Homo sapiens: one gene and its partners. The protein of the gene in region 1 interacts with the protein of each later gene in a pairwise test. Each region holds a gene or a part of one and is shown in the gene's direction. Other genes may lie near its edges. The genes, in order: SPATA46, HNRNPH3, HLCS and alpha-crystallin A2 chain.

The links.
Region 2: the proteins of SPATA46 (region 1) and HNRNPH3 interact in binary tests that used the Homo sapiens proteins (3 or more experiments, as listed by UniProt).
Region 3: the proteins of SPATA46 (region 1) and HLCS interact in binary tests that used the Homo sapiens proteins (3 or more experiments, as listed by UniProt).
Region 4: the proteins of SPATA46 (region 1) and alpha-crystallin A2 chain interact in binary tests that used the Homo sapiens proteins (3 or more experiments, as listed by UniProt).

What each region holds. Positions count from the first base shown.
Region 1 is NC_000001.11:162,372,508-162,380,582, reverse strand, and holds SPATA46 (spermatogenesis-associated protein 46), read left to right. Parts: upstream 1-3,728; 5' UTR 3,729-3,792; coding exon 3,793-3,895; intron 3,896-5,179; coding exon 5,180-5,293; intron 5,294-5,966; coding exon 5,967-6,535; 3' UTR 6,536-7,380; downstream 7,381-8,075. UniProt on the Homo sapiens protein: Plays a role in spermiogenesis and fertilization.
Region 2 is NC_000010.11:68,338,564-68,342,063, forward strand, and holds part of HNRNPH3 (heterogeneous nuclear ribonucleoprotein H3), read left to right. Parts: coding exon 1-124; intron 125-576; coding exon 577-663; intron 664-876; coding exon 877-992; intron 993-2,548; exon of another isoform or gene 2,549-2,610; coding exon 2,611-2,746; intron 2,747-3,021; coding exon 3,022-3,117; intron 3,118-3,195; coding exon 3,196-3,288; intron 3,289-3,414; coding exon 3,415-3,491; 3' UTR 3,492-3,500.
Region 3 is NC_000021.9:36,954,703-36,962,160, reverse strand, and holds part of HLCS (biotin--protein ligase), read left to right. Parts: coding exon 1-125; intron 126-7,458. UniProt on the Homo sapiens protein: Biotin--protein ligase catalyzing the biotinylation of the 4 biotin-dependent carboxylases acetyl-CoA-carboxylase, pyruvate carboxylase, propionyl-CoA carboxylase, and methylcrotonyl-CoA carboxylase.
Region 4 is NC_000021.9:6,559,650-6,567,001, forward strand, and holds the end of alpha-crystallin A2 chain, read left to right. Parts: intron 1-422; 5' UTR 423-1,133; coding exon 1,134-1,322; intron 1,323-2,270; exon of another isoform or gene 2,271-2,366; coding exon of another isoform or gene 2,367-2,444; intron 2,445-2,551; coding exon 2,552-2,674; intron 2,675-4,105; coding exon 4,106-4,315; 3' UTR 4,316-4,840; downstream 4,841-7,352. UniProt on the Homo sapiens protein: Contributes to the transparency and refractive index of the lens. In its oxidized form (absence of intramolecular disulfide bond), acts as a chaperone, preventing aggregation of various proteins under a wide range of stress conditions.

The sequences.
Region 1 (8,075 bases):
TTTGATGACTAGGCTCCTTTCCTTGTGAACACCTCTGCTAAGTGTCTATTTTCACTGAGCCTCTTCTAAGAGTAACTGGGGTTAGGGTGTACTTTTTCTTCTGCTGAATTTTTGTGTAAAGCAGTTCTTTCTGCCCTGCACTGCTGTATCCCGGGCCAGTGAAAACCTTTCTTGTGGTTTCAGTGGTGCTATCCTTTCTAGGCCAACTACCTAGGTATGCCATATTCTAAGGGCCTTTGGGTGGCAGGGAGGAAAACCTGTGGGAAGTGAAGTGGAGACTACTCTCTGCGGATGAGCCCTGTGGCCTGCACCACTGCAGGGTGAGGACCTGCCAGGGAACAGCATGACAGCATCCCTGGGACACAGGGCCCAAGCTGGCTGGGCTCCAGATAGACCCACCACACCAGCAGAAGCTTCCAGCCCGCTCCACAGCAAGCAGGGTCATCAACTCCTGATGATTCTCCTAAGTGTGTATCTTGCCACATCATCCACTTTGGCACAATTTGCCTGTCAGGTCCCACATCCTTCTTATTTTCTTTAATCACGTCATCCGCAAACTAGCAAAGAAGATTTGGAAACCAAACCATTTAACTATTTCCCCCCAAACCAGAAAGTACATAGACAACAATGAAACTGTACGAAATGCCCGGGGAAGGCAAATTGCCACCACTTCCCAAATCAGACATTTCCCTGGTGGTCTCCTTATTGGTTTAAAGTGACTTTTCAGAGCAGACATACTCGTTTTTAAAAAGGCAAGCACCAAAAACACCTGTCAAGGTGATTAGTAAATTATAAGCTATTATTATTTTTAAAACACTCTTTGTAATAAACAGAACTCTGGATTATGCACCATTTTGGATTTCCTGTATTTTTTGCTCTCTACCCTTCATAACATAGTCTATAACGCACTGAATTCTTAAGTAATGTAAAGATAGCCTACCATGCACTCCCTTTACCCTTGTCTAAGTCTTTCCAGTAAATACACCTTGTCTTAAAATGGTAAGGTCCTTGAGGGCCATAGCTCCTGAAGTGTTTCTTTATCTTCTACAATGCCCAGCTTAGGGTCTTGCACGATAGTAGGCATTTAATAAGTTTGTTTAATTGAATTTGACTTTTATATGAATTCTTAAAAATTGCATGATGGACTGACATTGTAGGGAAACTGCTCACAAGTCTTTTTCCATTTATAAAAACCACTCAAAACTCCCTCTATGGGAGTGGTCTTCAGGGGCTCTTGAGGTCAGACCCGGATAACTGCCCTTCTATTCAAAGTGAAAGTGGGGCTCTGGCTGGGGGGTCCCTTTATCCCTATGTCTGAGGATGTGCAATGGGTCCCTTTCTTGATGATGACGCTAATGACCCCCACACATTATCTCTCTTGCTTCAGGACTAGAGGCTTGATGGTTCAGAAAATAATGGCAATGGAGGACAGAGAGATGACTGGACCCCAGCCAGGTGGCCCTCCCAACAGTACCCCCCAACATGCACACACCCAAGCAGAGGAGGGCATCTGGGGATGTAAGTCATCCACAAAAAAACAGGATATCTTACCTGTCCGAGAAAGGGGCTCGGAAAGCAGGTGGGAAACAAACAAAAGAAAGACACATTTTACGTAGTGACCAGTCACTTTGAGAGTGTCACCTCCTGCCTGGGCCACCAGCACCAGCATACCTCGGGGGGACACAGCACACAAGACAGGGGACCTGCTACGAGGAGTGGTGTGCACCCTGGAACCGCCAGGCTCCCACAAACTTTTCAGTGACTAAACCAAAACCGGGTCGCATTTTAAAAACTCTACACAGGCACTGAGAGATTCTGCCTCCCATATTTCCCCCCAGTATTTTAAGCTCCCTTTACTTTAAGTCTGAGGTTGCAGTGGGAGAGTCTGAAGTTGGCAGTCGGAGAAATGTGATGGGTCAAGACAGAATGCAATTCCAAGTCCTCGGGGTCCTGTGTGCATCACTCACAAGTATGCTACTGTCCACATGTCAGTCACTGGGTTTTAGCCAGGAAGATGTTCATCCATTCCAGTTTAGAGTCTAAACTAATAACATGGGTAAACCAAGTAGCAGAGAGATTTGCCCAATATCACACAGGTAGCTCATGGCGGAGCAGGGTTAGAAGTCACATAAGCTGATGCCCAGACTCATGAGCTTTCTCTACACCATAATGGACCAAATGAAATTGCTGATACCCCCCAAACTGCCAAAGTATGTGGCTTCAACTTACTTTCCAATACATGCTAATGTTCCAAACCAGGCTATCTGGGAGGAACACGAGGGGAATCATGTTCTCCCATTGTCCTTCGAATGTTTCAGTACCGTGAATAAATACACACAGGAAGACAACTCTGGGCTCTCACGTGCAGAAGCTAACTCACACCTCACTCACACATGCTCGACAGCACTGCAAAACAAGCCCATCACTATTTCCAGAGCGGCCATAGCTCCCCATGCAGCATAAACATACCTGCCATCTAGATCTGCAGCCCTGCTCTGTATCTAGTTGACATGTTGTGATAATCTAGAAAGGGGTGTCTTCAGCTTATCTTCCAAGTGTCACAATCATCTTTCACCTTATTCCACACCTCGTTAGTGCACAAGGTTGTTATAGGACAAGCGAAACGAAGAGGCAACCTTGCCTCTCTGGAGTCCCAGAGTCTCCCCATCAAACTGACTTAAGCAATGAGCAAAATAGTATTGAGTAAGCCACCCATTTGTGCTTTAGTCACTTGCTAAAAAGAGCACCAACCACTGAAAACAATATTTGGCCCCTATTCTTAGGAAATACACATTGAAGTACTTAGGTATAAAAGGACATAGTGTTTATAACTTACCTTCAAATAGTTCACAGAAAAAATTAAGTATATACACATACACATGGGGCAGGGGGCAGGAGGAAGGGGACGGATACAGCAAATGGGGTAAAATGTTAATAGGAAAATCTGGATACAGGGCATAAGGGTGTTCTTTGTATTGATTTTATTTTTTGCAGCTTTTAAGATGGAGTCTCGCTCTGTCACCCAGGCTGCAGTGCAGTGGCGCTATCTCAGCTCACTGCAGCCTCTGTCTCCCAGGTTCAAGCGACTCTCCTGCTTCAGCCTCCCAAGTAGCTGGGATTACAGGCACCCACCACCACGCATGGCTAAATTTTATATTTTGAATAGAGATGGGGTTTCACCATGTTTGTCTAGCTGGTCTTGAACTCCTGACCTCAAATGATCCACCCGCCTTGGCCTCCCAAAGTGCTGGGATTATAGGCCTGAGCCACTGCACCCAGCCTAATTTCTGCAACTTTTACAAATTTGAATTTCCAAAGAAAATGTGAAAAATATATACACCTCAAAAAACAAACTAAAACAAAACAATAAAAATATTTGCTGACAGAGATTAGGCTGATAAAGGAGAAGAAAAGGAAGGAGATTATTCAGACAGGACAGAGGTTTCCAGGGCTGGAGGGCTGGGGGTAGACAGTGTCAACACAGAAAACTGATGATAACAAAGATAAAAGGGGACAAATAGACAGCATCACTACAGTATCTCTACTACATTCTTCTCTCTGGGTATTGTCAATCAGGGCCTGCCACTGGGCAATGGCAAGTCAAATACAATCTTTACACATTTTAATCTTGCTTTCAGTAGACTCCATTCATCTTCCAAAGGGTAACCTAGTTGGTAGTGGAATCATGTGCCTTGTGACATCAACTGTGCTCAGAATGTTTATCCTCTGGACAAACCAGCCAGCCTCTCCAGAGCAGGCGTGTGATCTCTGTACCCCCGCAGTGGTCAGAATATGGAGAACTTCTCACTCCTCAGCATCTCTGGACCTCCAATCTCTTCCTCCGCCCTGAGTGCTTTTCCCGACATTATGTTCTCTCGTGCCACCAGCCTGCCAGGTAAACTTTGGTGCCACTAGGGCCACAAAGATGTGGTTTTTTTTGAAGCTTTTAATTGAGTACCCTACCAGATCATGTTACAGGACCATGATTTAGTGAGAAAGTCAAATTACGCATGGGGAGAAAATAATTTTTCAAAATGCTGCATTTGTGGTAAGTAGTTACTGCTGTGTATTGATTTTTGGTAAGGGAAGAAAGGGGAAAACTTTTTTTTTTTTTTTGAGACAGAGTTTCACTCCTGTCGCTCAGGCTGGAGTGCAATGATGTGATCTCGGCTCACTGCAACCTCTGCCTCCTGGGTTCAAGTGATTCTCCTGCCTCAGTCTCCATTTATCATCAAGTTTTTCCCCCTAGATTGTGCATGAAATCTCAAGGTGGCAGTATGTCTACATAGAGTAGAAACTAGTTTTAGCTCTGTTTTGACAAGTTTGGAGAGGATTTGGAGTTAGCCAAATCAGAGAAGCCTAAGCAGCAGCGTAAACTGATGAGCACATCATGGAATAAAGTTGGACACCCTGAGGACTCCCTGTTCAAAATACGGTCCTTAGACTTGCAACGTCTGCATCGTCTGGGAGCTTGTTAGAAATGCAGAATCTCAGGTTCCCACCCCAGATCCACTGAATCAGCATCTGTGTTATTAACAAGATCCCTAGGGGATCTCTATGCACAGTAAAATGGAGAAGTACTGCTCAGTGGAGTAGGCCTCCTAAGCATCCATTTGTCTACATATATGACATTTATAAATTTGTCCCCCAAACTGAACACAGCTGCTATTCTGGGATTTGAGGCAGGTCAGCTTTTTGTCCAAGTGTTAGCACTCCAGGGTGTGCCGTGCAGTGATGGCCCACGGGAACCCTGACTGTGGGTATGAGATGTTTCAACTGGACAATCCTCAAAGCGGGCATGGAACATTGCTCTGCAGCCTGTGACTCTGGGTCCCAGGATGCTCAGGAGACTGGCAATGCGGAGTGAAGCCATCCGCGTGATGAGATGCAGGAGGGTTAGGTGAGGGGCAGGCCAGGCGGAGAGGTGTCATCTGGGCTACATCATAAATCCCACTTTCCAGAGGATCTTTCTGAGGCCTGAATGAAATGGCCCCATTCAGAATTCCCCAGGATGTCATCCAGAATAGCTCTGCCTGGCTGAGTTTGAGAGGTCACTGTTCTGTTTCAGCGTTGAGATGCCTTGAAGTACAGAGGTTGAGCCCCTAGGTATGCCTGGGGGAGTCCCAGAAAGTGGAATCCCAACCTTGCTCAGCTCACCAGTGTTTCTTCTATAACCCAGACATTGCAAAGACAGCAGTACCCACTGAGGCATCCAGCCCAGCTCAGGCCCTGCCACCCCAGTACCAAAGCATCATTGTCAGGCAAGGGATACAGAACACAGCGCTCTCACCAGGTGAGGACTTCTCTGACTCTGGGCGGGAATGTGTGAGAGGCTAAGGATGAAAAGGGGCTGCTTCCCTAAGGAAGCAGAGGTGTCTGGAAGCTGGACCCCCATGCGCGGTCTTGTCACCTGCAGCCTCCTATCTGGCCCTTCTTCCTTTGGTAGACACCCACAGGCCTGGGGCTCTCGCCTTGCCTCCCCTCTCCTGTCTCTGAAACTGGTGTGCAAGAGCAGTTTCTGGCTGAGTGGGCCGTGGAGGGATCAAGATGAGCAGTGAGGCTGAAAAAAGGGTCACAGCCATGGGTGGCGAAAAGAGGGACTGTGGGAGGCCGCCGGTTTGGCTATCCGCTGGGTCACCTGTCTGTGTCTATCCTTAGAGGAGTCAGTGGACATGGTGTCTCCAGGAGGGGAAGGCCTCGACAAATACCAAGGCTTACCAACTAAAAGCAGCCTCTCCTGCCCCAAGATCCAACGGCCCTTTGTACCCCTAGAAAAAGAATGCAGTGAGAAGGAATGCCCTCGGCTGCTCTTACCACTGTCTTGCGTCTGCTCTCAGAACTGCAATCGTGGTGGGGTGGAGGTAACCGAGGTCATGCCTGATGTTTGCCTTCTTACCTTTCTGCTCCAGCATCCTTGGCTCCACTGCTCCCTGCCAGAGACTCAGACCTGGTCCTTTCCTTTGCAGACTGCAGCTTGGGGGATACCCAGCACGGAGAGAAGCTGAGGCGGAACTGCACTATCTACCGGCCCTGGTTCTCCCCCTACAGCTACTTCGTGTGTGCAGACAAAGAGAGCCAGCTGGAGGCCTATGACTTCCCAGAGGTGCAGCAGGATGAGGGCAAGTGGGACAACTGCCTTTCTGAGGACATGGCTGAGAACATCTGTTCGTCCTCTTCCTCCCCAGAGAACACTTGCCCTCGAGAAGCCACCAAGAAATCCAGGCATGGCCTGGACTCCATCACATCCCAGGACATCCTAATGGCTTCCAGGTGGCACCCAGCACAGCAGAATGGCTACAAGTGCGTGGCCTGCTGCCGCATGTACCCCACCCTGGACTTCCTCAAGAGCCACATCAAGAGGGGCTTCAGGGAGGGCTTCAGCTGCAAGGTGTACTACCGCAAGCTCAAAGCCCTCTGGAGCAAGGAGCAGAAGGCCCGGCTGGGAGACAGGCTCTCCTCCGGCAGCTGCCAGGCCTTCAATAGTCCTGCTGAACACCTTAGGCAAATTGGCGGTGAAGCCTACTTATGTCTCTAGAGAGATGCCAATAAAGTTAGTCACAGCCTTCTGTCCAGTCTGAGGTCACCCCGCACAGCCTGCTGTCCTTCCCAGAACCCGGCTCTCATCACCTTTGGCTAATGGTTGCCTAGCAACACCAGGCACACACCCTCCCCTTTCTCTCTTTTAAAAATAAAGACAATACTTGAAGTTTGGGAAAATCATCTAAGATAGAGGTTCTCAAAGGTGCCCAGCTGGCAGTACCAGCAACCCCTGGGAACTCTCAGGCCCTCCTCAGACCTACTGAATCAGAAACTATGGGTCTGGGGCTGGCGGTCTATGTCCTAACCAGCCCTCCAGGTGACTCTGATGCAGCTCAGCTGTGAGAAGCACTGCTCTAGGATTCTGGCCTCTGCTTGGTCCCTATGTGGTCAGTCCTTGCCCCACCCTGGGAAGAAGGGGCTGGATGCCCTTTCCTATTTGCATGGGGAAGAATCTCTGCAGTTTTAAAGGCTTCTTTGACGGTAGATCTTCTGAGGGGGGAATGTGGAGGAAAATATGCCTCTGAGTATAAGGCAGGTAAGAGGCAGATGGGGCTGAGCTCACCCGGGACTGAGCTCTCAGGCACTACCATCATTCACTTAGAACAGCCATCCAGTGCTGGGGCAGAATAGAATCAGTTTTGACCCAGGAGACGTCTTTTCTTGGCTGCTTTGAGCCAGGTGAAAATAGGCAGGTAAACATGGGAACCTATTGCTTCCTGTTACCAAGTAATGTGTCCAGTGGGCAGCCCTGACTCTGCCTCCATTTCTGAGTGAACCTCCTGGTCCATCTGACCCAGAAAGATGGATAAGCATCAGGGATGCAGCAGAGACATCTATCTTGACTGTAATGTGGTTTTTAAAAAGCACCAAATGCTTGCTGGTCATCCTTTCAGGCCTCATTTACCTCTTGCTTTATCACCCTGATGACTCAGTAGCCCCTCCACTGCAGTGGGCACTGCCTTGCAGGGACCCTGGCACAAACCCCCGCCCTGGTCTTTGCCTCCCTCAGGGCTTGGCCAGCAGGTGGTGTGGAGGGTCCTCCCTCACCTCCCAAAGGCTTTTCCTCCAGAGTCTTATCTGTGGCTTAGCAGAGCTGCTCTGCTTATCAGTGTGCTGCTAAAACCTCATTTGTGGTCGTTCCCCACAGAGTGGGAGGGAGGCTGGGCTCGATCCCCATCGCATCATGTGCTGTGAGACCACTGCGGCCCTGTGCCCTCGAGCCATGCTTCTCACCCCATTCTGTCCCCAACCCCACCCAGCCTGCATCCCAAAGTCCAATTGACTGCCAGGCTCCAGCTGGGCTGGGATCCAGGACAAGGTCACAACCTATCCAGTCCAGTGTGCAGAGGTCTCCAGGCAGCCCTGACATCACTCCCAGGACCCTGTGCCCTGAAAGGGCAGATGAGTGGCTCTGGGCAATCTTTTTAATCCTCACTCCGAGCTACTGTTGTCTCTGTCCTTTGCCAACCCCATGCTCCCTTCTCTATGGCATCTGTACAACAGGCATAGAACATATCACGAGAAGGAAAACAAGC
Region 2 (3,500 bases), on another chromosome or scaffold:
AGATTGCTGGGACAGCGACCGGGACCATATGATAGACCAATAGGAGGAAGAGGGGGTTATTATGGAGCTGGGCGTGGAAGTATGTATGACAGAATGCGACGAGGAGGTGATGGATATGATGGTGGTATGTGTATCTAATGAACAAAGGTTCTGTTGTCATTTTCTTAATGTTCCTGACACTTTGTCAAGAAATACAGAAATGGCAGTAATTTCAGTACCTATTAGGTTTTAAAACCTGTTCATGAAAATACGGATTCCCATGGCTAGCTGTGGGACTTGACTGATGCACATATTGGCACCTAGAAAACTTACACAGAAATTAAAATTAAGATGTTGGCATATTTTGACCTTTTTTTGCCTAAGGATGAAATTTAATTTACATGTCTGAACTTAATTAACTTTCTGAGATTTTAAATTTCCATCACGTTGACTGCTTTTTTCATAGGTTTTAAGTTGGGAATTGCAAACTTGCAATCAAGTTACACAGACTGTTACCACAAAATGTTTTTGTAAACTAAATTATAAAATTTATCTCTGGAAAGTGTGTAGTCATGTGTTTCTCCTTAAATTACACAGGTTATGGAGGTTTTGATGACTATGGTGGCTATAATAATTACGGCTATGGGAATGATGGCTTTGATGACAGAATGAGAGATGGAAGAGGTAAAATAAATATTAAAGACATTTTTATTCATAGGTAAATTTTAGTATTTGCTTTGCAAGCTCTTAGTGGTAATATAGGAAACTTGTATAAAGTTAATTCAGACAAATTTCAGTGCATTCCTATATAGAGCTTTATACCTTGTATAGTATGTATGTATACTTCCCTACTTGTATCTGTAATAGTTTATAATCTTGGCAAATTGTGTTTTCCAGGTATGGGAGGACATGGCTATGGTGGAGCTGGTGATGCAAGTTCAGGTTTTCATGGTGGTCATTTCGTACATATGAGAGGGTTGCCTTTTCGTGCAACTGAAAATGACATTGCTAATGTGAGTAATTTTTAATAACTATTAGTGGTTTTATACTTATCCTGGTGTCTAAATCTTTAAGCATTCTTAATGTTCTCATGTTTATAGCTTAATACCAAAATCCCTTGAATATAAAAATAGATCTACCTTTAATTCTTTTTTTGAGATGGAGTCTTGCTCTGTCCCCCAGGCTGAGTGCAGTGGTGTGATCTCGGCTCACTGCAAGCTCTGCCTCCCAGGTTCACGCCATTGTCCTGCCTCAGCCTCCCGAGTAGCTGGAACTATAGGTGCCCGCCACCACGCCTGGCTAATTAGATCTACCTTTAATTCTAATCACTGATGGATATTTTTGTATCCATTGTGTGTCAACCTACATAGGATTCAAACAAGTAAAAAGCTACATTCGTGAAGTCCAGTTAAGAGTATAATGAAAGACTGATCAGCATAGAATGGTGATGACTATACCATTTTGTGCTGGTGTCTTTTGTTGTACCGTTTTTTGTTTTGTTTTCTTTTTTGAGACAGAGTCTTGCTCTGTCGCCCAGGCTAGAGTGCAGTGGCGCGATCTCGGCTCACTGCAACCTCCACCTCCCGGGTTCAAGTTATTCTTCTGCCTCAGCCTCCTGAATAGCTGGGATTACAGGGGCACACCCCACCACTCCTGGCTAACTTTTTGTATTTTTAGTAGAGATGGGGTTTCACCATGTTGATCGGGCTGGTCCTGACCTCATGATCCGCCTGCCCTGGCCTCCCAAAGTGCTGGGATTACAGGCGTGAGCCACTGCGCCTGACCTGTATTAGGGTTTGAAAGAGTGAATATATAAATATTAGTGATTTGGTTTGGCTTTCTAGGCTAGATGGTGATTAGAAACTGAGGAGTTGGAAATAACAGGAATAGATGCTGCTGTTGTCACTGATGTGAAACTGGTTGGTTTCAGATTTGTTAGGAGGTCAGCAAACTTCAGTCCATGGGCTAAATCCGGTCACACCATTCCTCTACCTGTTGAGTGGTTACATTAGAGACCCAATGGCCATTCAGGCCAAAAGTACTGACTCTGGCTTTAAAAGCAATGGTGTGCTCTAGATCTTACTGGGAATCAGCTGGCCTGAGTTCCAACTGCTTTTAATGATAGTTTAAAACCTGGCTAACTTGTGATTAGAACCAAATGATATCTTTTGGGGAACAATTTCATATAGTCTTAAATAGGTGGCTTTATTCAAACCGCATAGTTCCAAATCATGATATCCCGTATTTCTCTCTGTGTGTTTGTGTGCTTTTTTTTTTTGACAGTCTCCCACTCTGTCTCTCTGAGGCTGGAGTGCAGTGGCGTGATCTCTGCTTACTGCAGCTCCCACCTCCTGCGTTCAAGCGATTCTCTGTCTCAGCCTTCTGAGTAGCTGGGATTACAGGCGTGAGCCACTGCGCCCTGCCTATCTGCTTATTTTAAAAGCAGTAAATTCTTTACATTATCCCTAAGTGTATACTCTGATATTCACAGAACCTCTGTAGTTGACTAAGTTATTAGTCTGACAGGGCAGTGGAAGGGTTTGTTTTAATTGATGAGGAAAAATCAAGGTATGTGGTAATTTACTTTAATATTCTCAATAGAAAAGTAAATAAGTGTTTCCTTTTATTTAGTTCTTCTCACCACTAAATCCAATACGAGTTCATATTGATATTGGAGCTGATGGCAGAGCCACAGGAGAAGCAGATGTAGAGTTTGTGACACATGAAGATGCAGTAGCTGCCATGTCTAAAGATAAAAATAACATGCGTAAGTGGTGTCTTTGGCACACAATCTTATTTCCTAAACGTGAATTTATAAAATAAGAGGCTCTAAGATCTGTAGGTAACGCTTGGCAGTTGTTGGGATTTAAAACCATTTGACCTCTATAATGGCTTTCTGTGGGCTTTATATATCGCTGTACTAGTAATTAATAAGCATACTTTGTTTAATATTACTTAATTGATCTTTTTTACAAAGCTTGTATTGATGAATTTTATCCATCATTCCTTTCTCCCCTGTTACTCTTTCTTTTTTTCTTAAAGAACATCGATATATTGAACTCTTCTTGAATTCTACTCCTGGAGGCGGCTCTGGCATGGGAGGTTCTGGAATGGGAGGCTACGGAAGAGATGGAATGGGTATGTAAAGTTTTTAAAATATGCAGGGTTAGCTGCTTATCGATGAGTCTCAATTTTTTTTCTTTTTTCTTTTTAAAGATAATCAGGGAGGCTATGGATCAGTTGGAAGAATGGGAATGGGGAACAATTACAGTGGAGGATATGGTACTCCTGATGGTTTGGGTGGTTATGGTAAGTATCTCTAGTTCAGTTTGTGTTAGTCCGCATATGTAGTGCAAACTTTAAAGTGCAGGTATTACTTTTATTATTTTATGCAGATATCTCCTGCTGAGTGATTCTTAATATCTTTTTCTTAAGGCCGTGGTGGTGGAGGCAGTGGAGGTTACTATGGGCAAGGCGGCATGAGTGGAGGTGGATGGCGTGGGATGTACTGAAAGCAAAAA
Region 3 (7,458 bases), on another chromosome or scaffold:
ACTTGAACAAGTGGGCCCTATTTCTTGTGTCTCCTTTTATACTTGAAGCAGAACACATAGCATTTGTGACGGAGAGCATTTGGGTACAAAGTGAGAATTTACAGAGATCATCCTCTTCAGAAACAGTGAGTACCATGTTTACTTGTGTCCCATAAGGAACTGATGTGTCTTAGTCAAAACCAAATTTGCTTTTTTTTTTTTTTTCCTGAGACAGAGTCTTGCTCTGTCACCCAGGCTGGAGTGCAGTGGTGTGATCTCGGCTCACTGGGACCTCCGCCTCCTGGGTTCAAGTGATTCTCATGCCTCAGCCTCCAGAGTAGCTAGGACTACAGGCGTGTGCCACCACACCAGGCTAATTTTTGTATTTTTAGTAGAGTCAGGGTTTTGCCATGTTGGCTAGGCTGGTCTTGAACTCCTGACCTCAAGTGATCCACCTGCCTCGGCCTCCCAAAGTGCTGGGATTACAGGTGTGAGCCACCACGCCCGGCCTCAAATTTGTCTTTTTATGAGTGCTCTTTCCTAGCCTTTGTGGCTCCCTTTCTCTTTGGATATTTTGGGTTAAATATATTAGTAAAATTATTTTCACCTGTTTCTTTTTATGTTTTTAATGTGGCTGCTAGAAAAATTTATTGTTATTATTTTTCAGACAGGGTCTTATTGTGTCACCTAGGCTGGAGTACAGTGGTCATTATAGCTCACTGAAGCCTCAAACTCAGGGCTCCAGGGATCCTACCTCCTCAGCCTCCCAAAATACTTGGATTAGAGATGTTAGCCACCACGCCTGGTCACTGCTAGGAAAGTTAAAACCACGTGTGTGGCTTGTATTTGTGGCTCACGTTATATTTTTATTGAGCAGCACTCTCTCTCAGGTCATCTCATCCATTCCTACAATTTCTTGCTTCCTAAATCAACCTGAGTGGCTGGGGTATATCACCACCTACGTCCTAAACGTCTTTCCTTGAGTATTCTGAAAATACTTCAACCTCAGCCACATGTCCAAAATGAGTTGTGTTTGTATTCTTCTGCTTCAAAGAGAGAAAATCCCAAATTAACACGCCAGCCGGCTTTTCCTCGCACCTCCTCCTCGCTTCCGTGAAGTTATGAGTTGTAACAGCACTCCCTAAATTGTTAGCTCCTCTCCTTCATCTCCACTGCTCCTCATTCCATCCTCATGTTCATTATCTTTTGTCTGAGCTGTGAAAATACCCTGTCTCATGTCCCTTCTTTGGGCATTCCTCTTGATGGCCAGAGTTAGTCATTCTGGACCCACATCCAGTTGGGACAGTGTTGCATAAGCTTTTGGTGGATGTCATCCCTCCAGGTGCAGTCCATGCCCTGAGGCTCCTGGAGGTCTGACCCCAGTGTACCCTTGCAGCTTCCTTCCCCTCACTTGTGGGTCCTCACCCGCCATTGTTCCCTGCTATGTAGATCATCCAGTGGGGATTTTGCTGATGCTAGCCATGTTTACTGGATTCCCATTTCATGAAGATTATCTGTAAGATGCTGTATTGAGAGAAGAAGAAAAATGGGGAAGTAAACAAGAAGTAATTGACTGGAATTCAGGGTGAACCAAAATAAGGGGAGGCAGGTGCAGATAGTATAGGATAGCGAGAGACTTTCTGATGGGGGCCCTGGAGCGGGCAGAGCATCAGGCAGATGGGCCTGGAGCAGTGCAGTGTGTTAAGACAGTACGTTCTCTCCTGAAGGTTTGTAATGTTTCGTTTAGCCCTGTAGACACTTATGATAATAATAAGCCATTTATTGAGCCCTTGCTAGGTATTTTATAAACGTTACCCCTAATGTCACAGGATCCTTGGGGTGTCGTTTCACCAGACAGAAACCTCTGTGGCTAGCGGTGCCTTCTGCCTAAGTATTGCTTGTGCCCACTGGTCTTATTCCACCCACTTGGCCTGGCAGGCTGCACTCAGCTCATTCTACCAGCTCAGATTGCACACCTACCAGGGGCAAGCTGGGTGCAGAGCGGCAAGGGGTGTGTGGGTGAGAAGTGCAGGGTCGGGGGGGGGGGGGGTGGGTGGCTCCATGCAAGGCTGTGGCTGGACCAGGTGTACTGAATGAGGCTTTTGCTGTGGGCACCTGTGTCTGGACAAGGGGAACATGGTGGCACCTGGAAGCATGGAGACGCTGGGAACCGCAGAGCCCCAAAGAGGGTGTTTACAGCCTTGGCTTGGGGAGCCCCTAGATCTTGGCTTCTTAAAGGGCCACAGTTCTTCTCTCCTTCTTGTTGCCTGCAATGTAGTGAGTACGGGGACATGTTTCAGCCCTGGTTTGTCTTACAGCTCTTTTAGTACTGCCATTCGGTGGGTCCTGAGTTATTGTCCTGCATCCAGGAAGAATGAGGTATGTGGAGGGTGAGCAAGGCAGAGAGGAACTTCACTGAGTGGCAGAACAGCTCTCAGGAGACCTGAAGTGGGTAGCTCCTTTCTGCAGCTGGTAGTCCCAGCCTCTGTGTGAGTCTGGCTGGGTCTGAGGTTTTCATGGGCTCAGAAGGGAGGAAGCGCGTGCTGATTGGTCCATGGGCAGCCATGGGCGGGCCAGAAAAAGCACTCTAAGTTCTCACTCTGGGCCACAGGCTTCACCTGGAACTGACAGCCAGGTCCCCAGGTTTTGGGCTGGTCTTGGCTTGAAGGCAGGGCGTCACCAGGGACCCGCCCCTTTCTACCTATGAGCCTGTCTGCCTTCTGCTGTCAGTCATGTTGTCCAAGGTGCCCAGGCTGTTTGTGCTGAGGGGTGCCTACAGGCCTGCAACCAGCCGTCCTCAGCCCCTCCTCGGCCTCCCTCCCATCCTCGTGGTCCAGAGTGGCTCCTAAAGTCTAGAGGGGGGCTGAGGTGGCAGGGGGCTGGTGTGTCAGCGCCATCCTGAGCAGCACCCACCTGGCCGGGTTGCGACACCGCCCAGGCTCAGCTTCAATTTTGCTCCAGAATCAGAGCGGGCACAGGGAGCAGGAAGAGGCCAGGCAGCGGGATCAGGCACTTCCAAGCCTGTGGGGAAGCGGGGGCCTCTGGGACCCCTGAGAGTGCAGGGATGCCCAGGTCCGCAGCTGTGGCTGGGAGGCTGCAGTTATGCCTGGGAGCACTGGGCTCCTGCCCTGCCAACTCAGAAGCGGGAAGGGCTCCTGCCTGCTCCCAGCTCCCCCTGGTTCCACAGAGCGCGTATCCCTGGCCGCGCCTACCCTGCTCCAGACTGGCTGCAGCTGTCATCACTAATACTTAACGGCTCTACAAAGTATTATCATTATTATTATTGCCATTTTGAAGATAAGAAAACTTAGGTTATAAGATTAAATGACATTCCTAAAGTGATAGGAATATCATTGCTAAGTGACAGACAAAGTTTTCTTTCTTTTTTTTTTGGAGATGGAGTCTTGCTGTGTTGCCCAGGCTGGAGTGCAGTGGTGCGATCTCAGCTCACTGCAACCTCCACCTCCCGGGTTCAAGCAATTCTCCTGCCTCACCCTCCCAAGTAGCTGGGACTACAGGCGCACGCTGCCACGCCCAGCTAATTGTTTGTATTTTAGCAGAGACCGGGTTTCACCGTGTTGCCCAGGCTGGTCTCGAACTCCTGAGCTCAGGCAATCTGCCTGCCTCAGGCTCCCAAAGTGCTAGGATTACAGGCGTGAGCCACTGTTCCCGGCCTAGACAAGGTTTTAACCAGCTGCTAAGTGAGAGATAAGATTTTAACCAATGCTTCTATCCTTTCTAGTAACTAGAGAACGAATTAATGGTTTTAAAGAGATCTAGATCATTGAGATTCCAAAATAAAGCTTTTATTAACCTAGGTCCAGTCAAACAGTACTTGTGTCTCTTATGTTTGGTAGAAGACGACCAGCTGTTGATACGACGGTTTTGGTGAACTCAGGGCTAATTTTCTTTCTTTCTTTCTTTCTTTTTTTTTTTTTTTTGAGACAGTCTCACTCTGTCGCCCAGGCTGGAGTGCAGTGGCGCGATCTCGGCTCACTGCAAGCTCCGCCTCCCAGGTTGACGCCATCCTCCTGCCTCAGCCACCCGAGTAGCTGGGACTACAGGCACATGCTGCCACATCCGGCTAATTTATTTATTTATTTATTTATTGTATTTTTAGTAGAGACGGTGTTTCACCATGTTAGCCAGGATGGTTTCGATCTCCTGACCTTGGGATCCACCTGCCTCGGCCTCCCAAAGTGCTGGGATTACAGGCGTGAGCCACCGCGCCCGGCCTCTTTTTTTTTTTTTTCGAGACGCAGTCTTGCTCAGTTGCCCAGGCCGAAGTGCAGTGGCGCGATCTCGGCTCACTGCAAGCTCTGCCTCCCGGGTTCATGCCATTCTCCTTCCTCAGCCTCCCGAGTAGCTGGGACTGCAGGCGCGTGCCACAACGCCCAGGTAATTTTTTGTATTTTTAGTGGAGACGGGGTTTCACCATGTTAGTCGGGATGATTTCCTGACCTCGTGATCCGCCTGCCTCTGCCTCCCAAAATGCTGGGATTACAGGCATGAGCCACTGCGCCCAGCCAATTCAGGGCTAATTTTCATATGCAGAAAAGACGATTCATAAACTTTATTTTTATTTTAAAAATGATTTTGAATTTATTGAAAATATAAATTAAATAATCAAGTAGGTCAAATCACATGAAATTGCTAATATCTGGCTTTTCTTTTTGAACTACAAAGAGGCCTTGTCATATGGTAACTGTATTAGGCAGTTCTTGCATTGCTATAAAGAAATACCTGGAGCTGGATAATTTATAAAGAAGAGGTTCTGCGAGCCATACAGGAAGAGTGGTGCCAGCATGTGCTTCTGGTGAGGGCCTTGAGGAACAGTCATGGCAGAAAGTGACAGAGGTGCAGGTGTGTCACATGGCAAGAATGAGAGTGAGACTGAGCTGGGGGAGGTGCCACACATTTTTAAACAACCAGGTCTTGTGAGAACTCACTCACTATAGGGAGGACAGCACCACACTATTCATGAGGGATCTGTTCCCATTACCCAAACACTTCCCCCACAGGCCCCACCTCAACCACTGGGGATTACATTTCAACGTGAGATTTGGAGGGGACAAACTTCCAGATTCTATCAGTAACCAATTCCTTGGGCTTTTTTTTTTTTTTTTTTTGAGACGGAGTCTGGCTCTGTTGTCCAGGCTGGACTGCAGTGGTGCAATCTTGGCTCACTGCAACATCTACCTCCTGGGTTCAAGCGATTCTTCTGCCTCAGCCTCCCAAGTAGCTGGAATTACAGGCACCTGCCACCATACCCGGCTAATTTTTTGTATTTTTAGTAGAGACGGGGTTTTACCATGTTGGCCAGGGTGGGTCTTGAACTCCTGACCTCAGGTGATCTGCCCGCCTCAGCCTCCCGAAGTGCTGTGATACAGCCATGAGCCACCATTCTGGCTCCTTGGACTTTTATTTATTTTTTATTTATTTATTTATTTTTGAGACGGAGTCTCGCTCTGTTGCCTAGGCTAGAGTGCAGTGGCACGATCTCGGCTCACTGCCAACCCTGCCTCCCGGGTTCATGCCATTCTCCTGCCTCAGCCTCCCGAGTAGCTGGGACTACAGGCGCCCACCACCACACCCGGCTAATTTTTTTTGTATGTTTAGTAGAGATGGGGTTTCACCGTGTTAGCCAGAATGGTCTTGATCTCCTGACCTTGTGATTTGCCCACCTCGGCCTCCCAAAGTGCTGGGATTACAAGTGTGAGCCACCACACCTGGCCTACAAACTCAAATATCTTAAAATATTTCATTTCATTTTAGGACTCTAGGTACACAGAATTGGGTTAACCATACTCCTTGTTCCAAATGTACTCTCATCGTTGGTTTATGCATGGATCTCATTCACCTGTGGATTTGAAATAATACAATAAATACCCATGAACTCACCGCTAGAACTACACGTGCCTCCCCACCCCCTGAGTCCATCTACTTGCTCCTGCTCCTTCCTCATGACTCCCCCTACCCCTCCTCCCAGTTTCTTTTTAGATTTTTAAGTTGTCTGGATTAACAGACACCACGTTTTTGAACACTTACATAATTCGTATACATTATAGTTAATGTGTTGCTTCACGACAGATACACATTGTGAGAAATGCGTCCTTAGGTGATTTCATCATGCAAACATCATAGAGTGTACTTATACAAGTCTAGATGCTGTAGCCTACTTTACACCTGGGATTTATGGGGTAGCCTATTGCTCCTAGGCTATAAACCTGTACAGCATGTTACTGCATTGGATACTGTAGGCAGCTGTAACACAGTGGTAAGTATTTGTGTATCTAAACATAGAAAAGGCACAGTAAAGATACAGTATAAAAGATAAAAAACAGTACACCTGTCTAGGGCACTTGCTATGAATGGAGCTTACAGGACTGAAAGTGGCTCAGGGCGAGTCAGTGAGTGAGTGGCGTGTGAATGTGAAAGCCTAGGACACAACAGTCACTACTTTAGACTTTATAAACACTGTACACTTAGGCTACACTGAATTTATAACAGCCTTCTTCTTCGATAATAAATTAATCTTAGCTTACTATCATATTTTTACTTTATAAACTTGATTTTTTAAAATTTTTGATTCTTTCGTAATAACAGCTTAAAACAAACACATTGTACAGCTGTAAAAAATATTTTCTTTCTATCCTTATTCTAAAAGCTTTTTTCTAAGATTTTATATATTTAAAAAAAAATTTTGTTTTTAAAATTTTATTCTTATTTTCATTTATTTATCTCTACAAATTTGTGAACATACAAATTGCTATGTTTCCTAGACTGATCTCCAACTCCTGGCTTCAAGCAGTCCTCTCACCTCAGCCCTCACCAAGCACTGGAATTATAGTTGTGAGCCACCATGTCCAGCCTGTTTCTTACTTTTTAAACTTTTTTTGCTAAAAACTAACGTAGAAACACACACATTAGTCTAGGCTGCCCAGGGTCAGGATCATCAGTATCACTGACTTTCACTGCACATGTGTCCTCCTGGAAGGTCTTCACGGGCAGTAACGTGCATGGAGCAGTGAACTCCTGTGATAACAATGCCTTCCCCCACAGTAGCTCCTGAAGGACCTGCCTCAGGCTGTTACAGTTAACTGTTTTGTTGGGTTTTTTTTGAGACAGAATCTCACTCTGCTGCCCAGGCTAGAGTTCAATGGCACTATCTTGGCTCATTGCAACCTCCGGCCCCAGGTTCCAGCAATTCTCCTGCCTCAGCCTCCCAAGTAGCTGGGATTACAGGTGCCTGCCACCACACCTGGCTAATTTTTATATTTTTAGCAGAGATGAGGTTTCACATGGTGGCCAGACTGGTCTCAAACCCTTGACCTCAAGTGATCCCCCCGCCTCGGCCTCCCAAAGTGCTGGGATTACAGGCATGAGGCACCACACCCAGCTGTTTTTTTTGTTTTGTTTTGTTTTGTTTTGTTTTTTTAATAAGTAGAAGGAGTACACTCTAAAATAATAGAAAACATA
Region 4 (7,352 bases), on another chromosome or scaffold:
CGCGCCACTATATGATCTGGGCGCCACTCTGGGTGACACAGCAAGACTCCATCTCAAAAACAAACAAACAAAACCGGGAGTGCCTGGACACTTAGTGAGAACTGGACAGGGGCCATGGGTCGAGGAGCAAAATAATCACCAGGACTTGTGGATAACAGGATCATGTGGGTGGTGGGTCCGCATGGGTGACAGGGACGTGGGGACATGTCGCCACCCTGACAGGAGCAGCCCAACTCAACAGCCACGGCAGGTCATGCCACGGAGGCTCGAGGCGTTACGTGGGGATGTTACATCAAGGCATTACATCATTACGAGATGTAACGCTCGAGGCGTTACATCGAGGGGATGATGGCCATGGGGCTGGGCGTCCAGGGTGGGCCGCAGAGGGAAGCTCACCACGTGGTGCTCTCATCTGCCCACAGCCCAGCCCGTCTTCCTGTTGGAGGCATGTGACCCCTGGAGGACAAGCATGAAACGCCATAGGGCTCCCCCAGGTGCTGGAATTATGGCACCTTGCAGCTTCTTCTCCACGAGTTTTAACAAGCATGCGTACTTTTGTAAGTGGTGAGTGTAACGGAGGTTCACAGATGCACTCCGCTTTGGAAACCAGTGCACTCTTGCCCAGGCCCGGTGAGACTCTGACGACGATGTGTCTAACCTCTGTGTCTAACGGGGGTGTGGGCTCTCCCTCCTCTGGCGACCATGAGGACCACCCCGGCAGGACAAGGTGTGCAGAGAACTAGCATGGTCCCTGGCACGTAGCCCCTGCCCAGTGACTGGCAGATGAGAAGCTCCATTGTCGCCCCAGGCGAGTATGGGGCACAGGCGCCTCCTTGGGTTGTCTGCCCTCCCGGGAGCCCCAGGGTGCCCAGGCGGGCCTCAGCTGAGTCCAGGCCTCGGGGACAGTCCGTGCAGCCCCTCCTGGGGCTGGGGGCGGGCACTTGTCCCAGCCACGTTTCTGCTGACTGAGCAGCCTTCTTCATGAGCTCACGCCTTTCCAGAGAAATCCCTTAATGCCTCCATTCTGCTGGTGGCATATATAGGGAGGGCTCGGCCTTGGCTCCACACTGCGCTGCCCAGAGGCCCCGCTGACTCCTGCCAGCCTCCAGGTCCCCGTGGTACCAAAGCTGAACATGGATGTGACCATCCAGCACCCCTGGTTCAAGCGCACCCTGGGGCCCTTCTACCCCAGCCGGCTGTTCGACCAGTTTTTCGGCGAGGGCCTTTTTGAGTATGACCTGCTGCCCTTCCTGTCGTCCACCATCAGCCCCTACTACCGCCAGTCCCTCTTCCGCACCGTGCTGGACTCCGGCATCTCTGAGGTAAGACGTGGCCCGTGGTGCTGGCCTCTCCTCGCTGCTCAGAGGGTGGTGGCCTCGGTGGGTGGAGAGCGATGGACTCTGGTCTTGCTCCGTCAGGCAGGTGGCCTCGTCCCACTTCATCCCCTTGCAGAGGCTGGGCGAGAGCCTGTGTCCCCACTGCAGCCACGTGGTAGAGCTTCCCCTGGCACTGGGGAGAGGGTGGACAAGGGAGCAGCCTGAATCCACCTTTGCTTTCCTCCATCAGCTCATGACCCATGTGTGCTTTGTAAGGCACCAGCCACATACTGGAAACCCCAAGAGCAGCCCATCCAGGCATGCGTGGTGGCGAATGCCAGCTCCCGGGTTCCTCTGGTCTCCTGAGTCCCGGAGACCTGGGAGCAGGTGGGGGTCATAGTCCTGAAAGCCAGAGAGCAGGGCGTTCCTAGCACCTCCTCCAATGAGCTCGGCCTGCCCACGGCTAGCAAAGCTCTTGGCAAGTTTACTTAGGTGCCCTGCCAAGGCTAAAAGGACAGGCAATGGACGCCCCCCCCCCCCACCCAACCACAGGCCTCCTCTCTGAGCCACGGGTGAGCGGTGCAGGTTCTGCTGTTCTGGAGGGCCTGAGTCCCACCCAGCACCTCATAAACAGGGTCCTCCCCAGGGCTGCTGCAGTAGGCATCAATGCCAGGGTGCAAAATGCCTCAGGGAGCCAAGGCTGAGCCAGGGGAGTGAGAAGGAGCATGTGGAAGTGCGTTTTGGAGAGGCAGCTGCGCAGGCTGTCAGCAGGCTCCGGCCGCTTCTATAGACAGCATGACACCAAGGGCAGTGACCTCATTCCACAGGCTGAGTCCAGCCAGCCAGCCAAGCATCACCAGCCAGACGATTGACCCTAACGGACCAACCAACCCGTAACGACCCCTCCTACCATAACCAGTAGCCAGCCAGCCCATAACCAGCCAACTTATCTATAACCAGCCACCTGACCATAGCCAAACAACCAGCCGGCCCACCAGTAGCATTCAGCCCCTCAGCTGGCCCTGAGGGTTTGGAGACAGGTCGAGGGTCATGCCTGTCTGTCCAGGAGACAGTCACAGGCCCCCGAAAGCTCTGCCCCACTTGGTGTGTGGGAGAAGAGGCCGGCAGGTGACCGAAGCATCTCTGTTCTGATAACCGGGACCCGCCCTGTCTCTGCCAACCCCAGCAGGGACGGCACCCTCTGGGCAGCTCCACATGGCACGTTTGGATTTCAGGTTCGATCCGACCGGGACAAGTTCGTCATCTTCCTCGATGTGAAGCACTTCTCCCCGGAGGACCTCACCGTGAAGGTGCAGGACGACTTTGTGGAGATCCACGGAAAGCACAACGAGCGCCAGGTGAGCCCAGGCACTGAGAGGTGGGAGAGGGGGGCGAGTTGGGCGCGAGGACAAGGGGGTCACGGCGGGCACGACCGGGCCTGCACACCTGCACCATGCCTTCAACCCTGGGAGAGGGACGCTCTCCAGGGGACCCCGAATCAGGCCTGGCTTTTCCCCAAGGGAGGGGCCGTGCCCACCTGAGCACAGCCAGCCCCTCCCGGTGACAGAGGTCACCATTCCCGAGCTAATGTGGCTCAGGGATCCAGGTTAGGGTCCCTTCCCGGGCTGCACCCAGCCGTCGCCAGCTCCATCCCTGTCACCTGGATGCCAGGGTGGTCTTAGAAAGAACCCCAGGAAGTGGGAGTGCCCCGGGTGGCCGCCTCCTAGCCAGTGTACATCTTCACATGAACCCTACCTGAGGAAGCCAGTCCCCGACGGCATAGCTGCATCCGCTTGGAATGCTTTACAGGCATTGACACCTTCGCCTCACAGCAGCACTTTGGAACCAGTGTCCTCATTATTCCAGGGCACGGCTGGGGAACAAGGGGGTCCTCAGCCTGCTGGGTCCCACAGCTAGTACCGGGCAGGTGGACGGGAGCTTCTCCCCACAGTCACCCTGATGCCCCGCTCTTGCTCGGCTGGAGGCCTCGGATCTCCGTGGTGTTGAGGGAGCCGGGGCACTGGAGCCCTGGTGACCTGCATCTCCTGGCGGAGCCGGGAAGAGCTCATGGACTGTCACAGATGGACAGTGCCCCGCGGGGGCTGGAGAGCAGAGTGGGGCTGGAAGGTGGAACTCTTAGCCAAAGTCTTGGTTTCTTTTGGCCAGGGTCCTCTTTCAATGGCTGGAGAAGGTGGTGCTGGGGGGTGAACGCTGACCTCCTCATGTGCTGCCCCTCCCTCGCCTGGGCCCGGTAAAGCCCCCACGTAGCCCCAGCCAGCCTGGAACATGCTTCCTGAGCTCCCAGCTCTTGGTCTTTGCACCCAGTGGAGGAGGAGGTCAGCCCAGGGAGCTGAGTCTGCGGTTTAGGGCGTCCAGGGGACGTGGAAGCATGTGGGTCGTCTGGCCACATTAGGTAGGGCTGCAGAGACCTGGGCTAGAGCAGTCCTGCGGGGTCTGGAAGGGGAAGACTGGCTGAGGTGCGGGGCCTGGTCTGGAATGATCCTGCGATTTTGGAGTGAAGCCATGGAGCGGGAAGAGACAACCCCCCGCGGGGAATAGCCCGGCAAGTGGCCACGAGGCCAGGCTGAGGTCCAGAGAAGCAGGGGCATGAATCCATAAATCCCAGGGGGCCTGGCCATGGGATGTGCTGGCTGCACCCGGCCCCTGTGAGAGCCCCCGCAGGCTGGCCCCCTTCTGCAGTCAGTGGGGCTGGGGCAGCTTCTCTGGCATGGGGCGAGGCAGCCGCCTGCACAGTGGCCCCCCTGACTGTGCGCCCCCACCCTCTCCAGGACGACCACGGCTACATTTCCCGTGAGTTCCACCGCCGCTACCGCCTGCCGTCCAACGTGGACCAGTCGGCCCTCTCTTGCTCCCTGTCTGCCGATGGCATGCTGACCTTCTGTGGCCCCAAGATCCAGACTGGCCTGGATGCCACCCACGCCGAGCGAGCCATCCCCGTGTCGCGGGAGGAGAAGCCCACCTCGGCTCCCTCGTCCTAAGCAGGCATTGCCTCGGCTGGCTCCCCTGCAGCCCTGGCCCATCATGGGGGGAGCACCCTGAGGGCGGGGTGTCTGTCTTCCTTTGCTTCCCTTTTTTCCTTTCCACCTTCTCACATGGAATGAGGGTTTGAGAGAGCAGCCAGGAGAGCTTAGGGTCTCAGGGTGTCCCAGACCCCGACACCGGCCAGTGGCGGAAGTGACCGCACCTCACACTCCTTTAGATAGCAGCCTGGCTCCCCTGGGGTGCAGGCGCCTCAACTCTGCTGAGGGTCCAGAAGGAGGGGGTGACCTCCGGCCAGGTGCCTCCTGACACACCTGCAGCCTCCCTCCGCGGCGGGCCCTGCCCACACCTCCTGGGGCGCGTGAGGCCCGTGGGGCCGGGGCTTCTGTGCACCTGGGCTCTCGCGGCCTCTTCTCTCAGACCGTCTTCCTCCAACCCCTCTATGTAGTGCCGCTCTTGGGGACATGGGTCGCCCATGAGAGCGCAGCCCGCGGCAATCAATAAACAGCAGGTGATACAAGCAACCCGCCGTCTGCTGGTGCTGTCTCCATCAGGGGCGCGAGGGGCAGGAGGGCGGCGCCGGGAGGGAGGACAGCGGGGTCTCCTGCTCGCGTTGGACCCGGTGGCCTCGGAACGATGGGGTCGCCTGCGTCCCTTCCTTCTCCTGAGCTCAAGCGCCTCCCTCCACACTGGGCTGGAAGGAGAGGTTTTGGGGGCAGAGCCTCTGATGGGAAAGGGACTGGGGAGCGGTTCCGAGAGCTGGGGGCGGGGAGGGACCTGGAAGGGGCTGCAGGGAATGGAGGGAGGCCGGGCTCCTTTCTCTGTCCGCGCCGGCACCGGGGCGGGACGCCAGCCCTGGCCTCCTTCTGCGGGGCCGTCCGGTTCTCTCGGGGTCTGCTGGGTCGTCCTGTTCTCTCGGGGGTCCTGCTGCCTTCGGGGCTGGGCTTTAAGGGCACTCGTGCTTTTGAGGAGCTGGAACTCGGCAGCTTCCCCTGGGCAACCCATCATGGCCCCGAGCTGGAGGCGGAAGCTCGCTCTGTCCCCTCCCGGGACCAGACACTGGGCGGCCATGCCAGACCCCGCCACGGGGAGGGAGACTCGGCCTGGGGGGCCCTGGCTGCCTGCTGCGCTCACCGAGGGGCATCCGGGGGGCCAGAGGGCACCCAAGGGGAAGCAGACGCCACGGCGGGTGGGCCCTGCCAGCGCCCTCAGCCAAGTAAAGCGCCCTCGACCCCGGAGGCCGAAGGCACCGGGACCCTGAGGCACTGGGACCCCCATGGCACCAGCAGGACGACCACAGGGGCGCAGCCTCCACCCGGGAGAACACAGACACTGACACCACCGGGTTTTCAAAAAGTCAGCAACAGGCATTAGCGTGGGCGGCCATAGTGACGCCCAGTGACATCACGTGCCACGGACACTGAACAGCACACACACCACACACACCACACACTCCACACACACCGCACACTCCACACACTCCACACACACCACACACACCACACACTCCACACACTCCACACACTCCACACTCCACACACTCCACACACACCACACACTCCACACACTCCACACACACCACACACTCCACACTCCACACACTCCACACACACCACACACTCCACACACACCACACACTCCACACCCACCACACACTCCACACACTCCACACACACCACACACTCCACACACTCCACACACACCACACACACCACACACTCCACACACTCCACACACTCCACACACACCACACACTCCACACTCCACACACTCCACACACAACACACACTCCACACACACCACACACTCCACACCCACCACACACACCACACACTCCACACACTCCACACACTCCACACACACCACACACTCCACACACAACGCACACTCCACACACTCCACACACACCACACACACCACACACTCCACACACACCGCACACTCCACACACTCCACACACACCGCACACTCCACACACACCACACACACCACACACACCACACACTCCACACTCCACACACACCACACACTCCACACACACACCACACACCACACACTCCATACACACCACACACTCCACACACTCCACACACTCCACACACACCACACACTCCACACACACCACACACTCCACACTCCACACACCACACACTCCACACACACACCACACACTCCACACACACACCACACGCAGCACAGACACCACACACTCCACACACACCACACACTCCACACACTCCACACACACCGCACACTCCACACACTCCACACACACCGCACACTCCACACACCACACACTCCACACACACACACCACACACTCCACACACAACACACTCCACACACACCACAGACACACACACACCCCTCAACACACCATGCCCTTTGTCTCTCTTTGTATTCCTCTGGCCAGGCCGTGGTGTGACGGGTTCTGAGTCCTGGGAGTGGCTCCCCTAGACTCCCCCCCTCCTCCTCCCTCCAGCAGGACCTGCCCGGCTGTTGTGCCATCGAGTCCCCATTTGTACAGAAGGGGGTGCCCTGTGGTTGGCAACAACATGACCCACTGTGCTTTGGGGCTGCGGCTGGATGTTTTTGAAAATCGGGGTGTCTGGGGCTCCCTGCTCCTCCTGGGTCTGTCCCGGACCAGCTGAGCGGACACCTTTGCTCTGCACAGCCTGGCAGCCATTGCAGGGAGGCGGGCCCACCGCAACATCTGGTAGCTCCGGGTCCCGTCCCACCGGCTGCACAGTGAATGGAGCTGTCACTCACGCCTGCAGCCTTGCTTGACTGCGGGTCCTGCCTGGACCTTGTTAGGGGCTGGAAGGTGACTCCCTGAAAATTATATGGGGTCCTACCCCCAAAGGCTCAGAATGGGACTGTGTTTGGCGGTGGGGGCTTTGATTAAATTGAAGTGATGTCACTGGGGTGGGCCCTGGCCCAGTCTGGCCGGTGTCCTTGTAAGAAGAGGAGATGAGGACACAGACCTACAGAGGGACAACCCCGTGAGGGCACAGGGAGGAGACACTGTCTGCAAGCC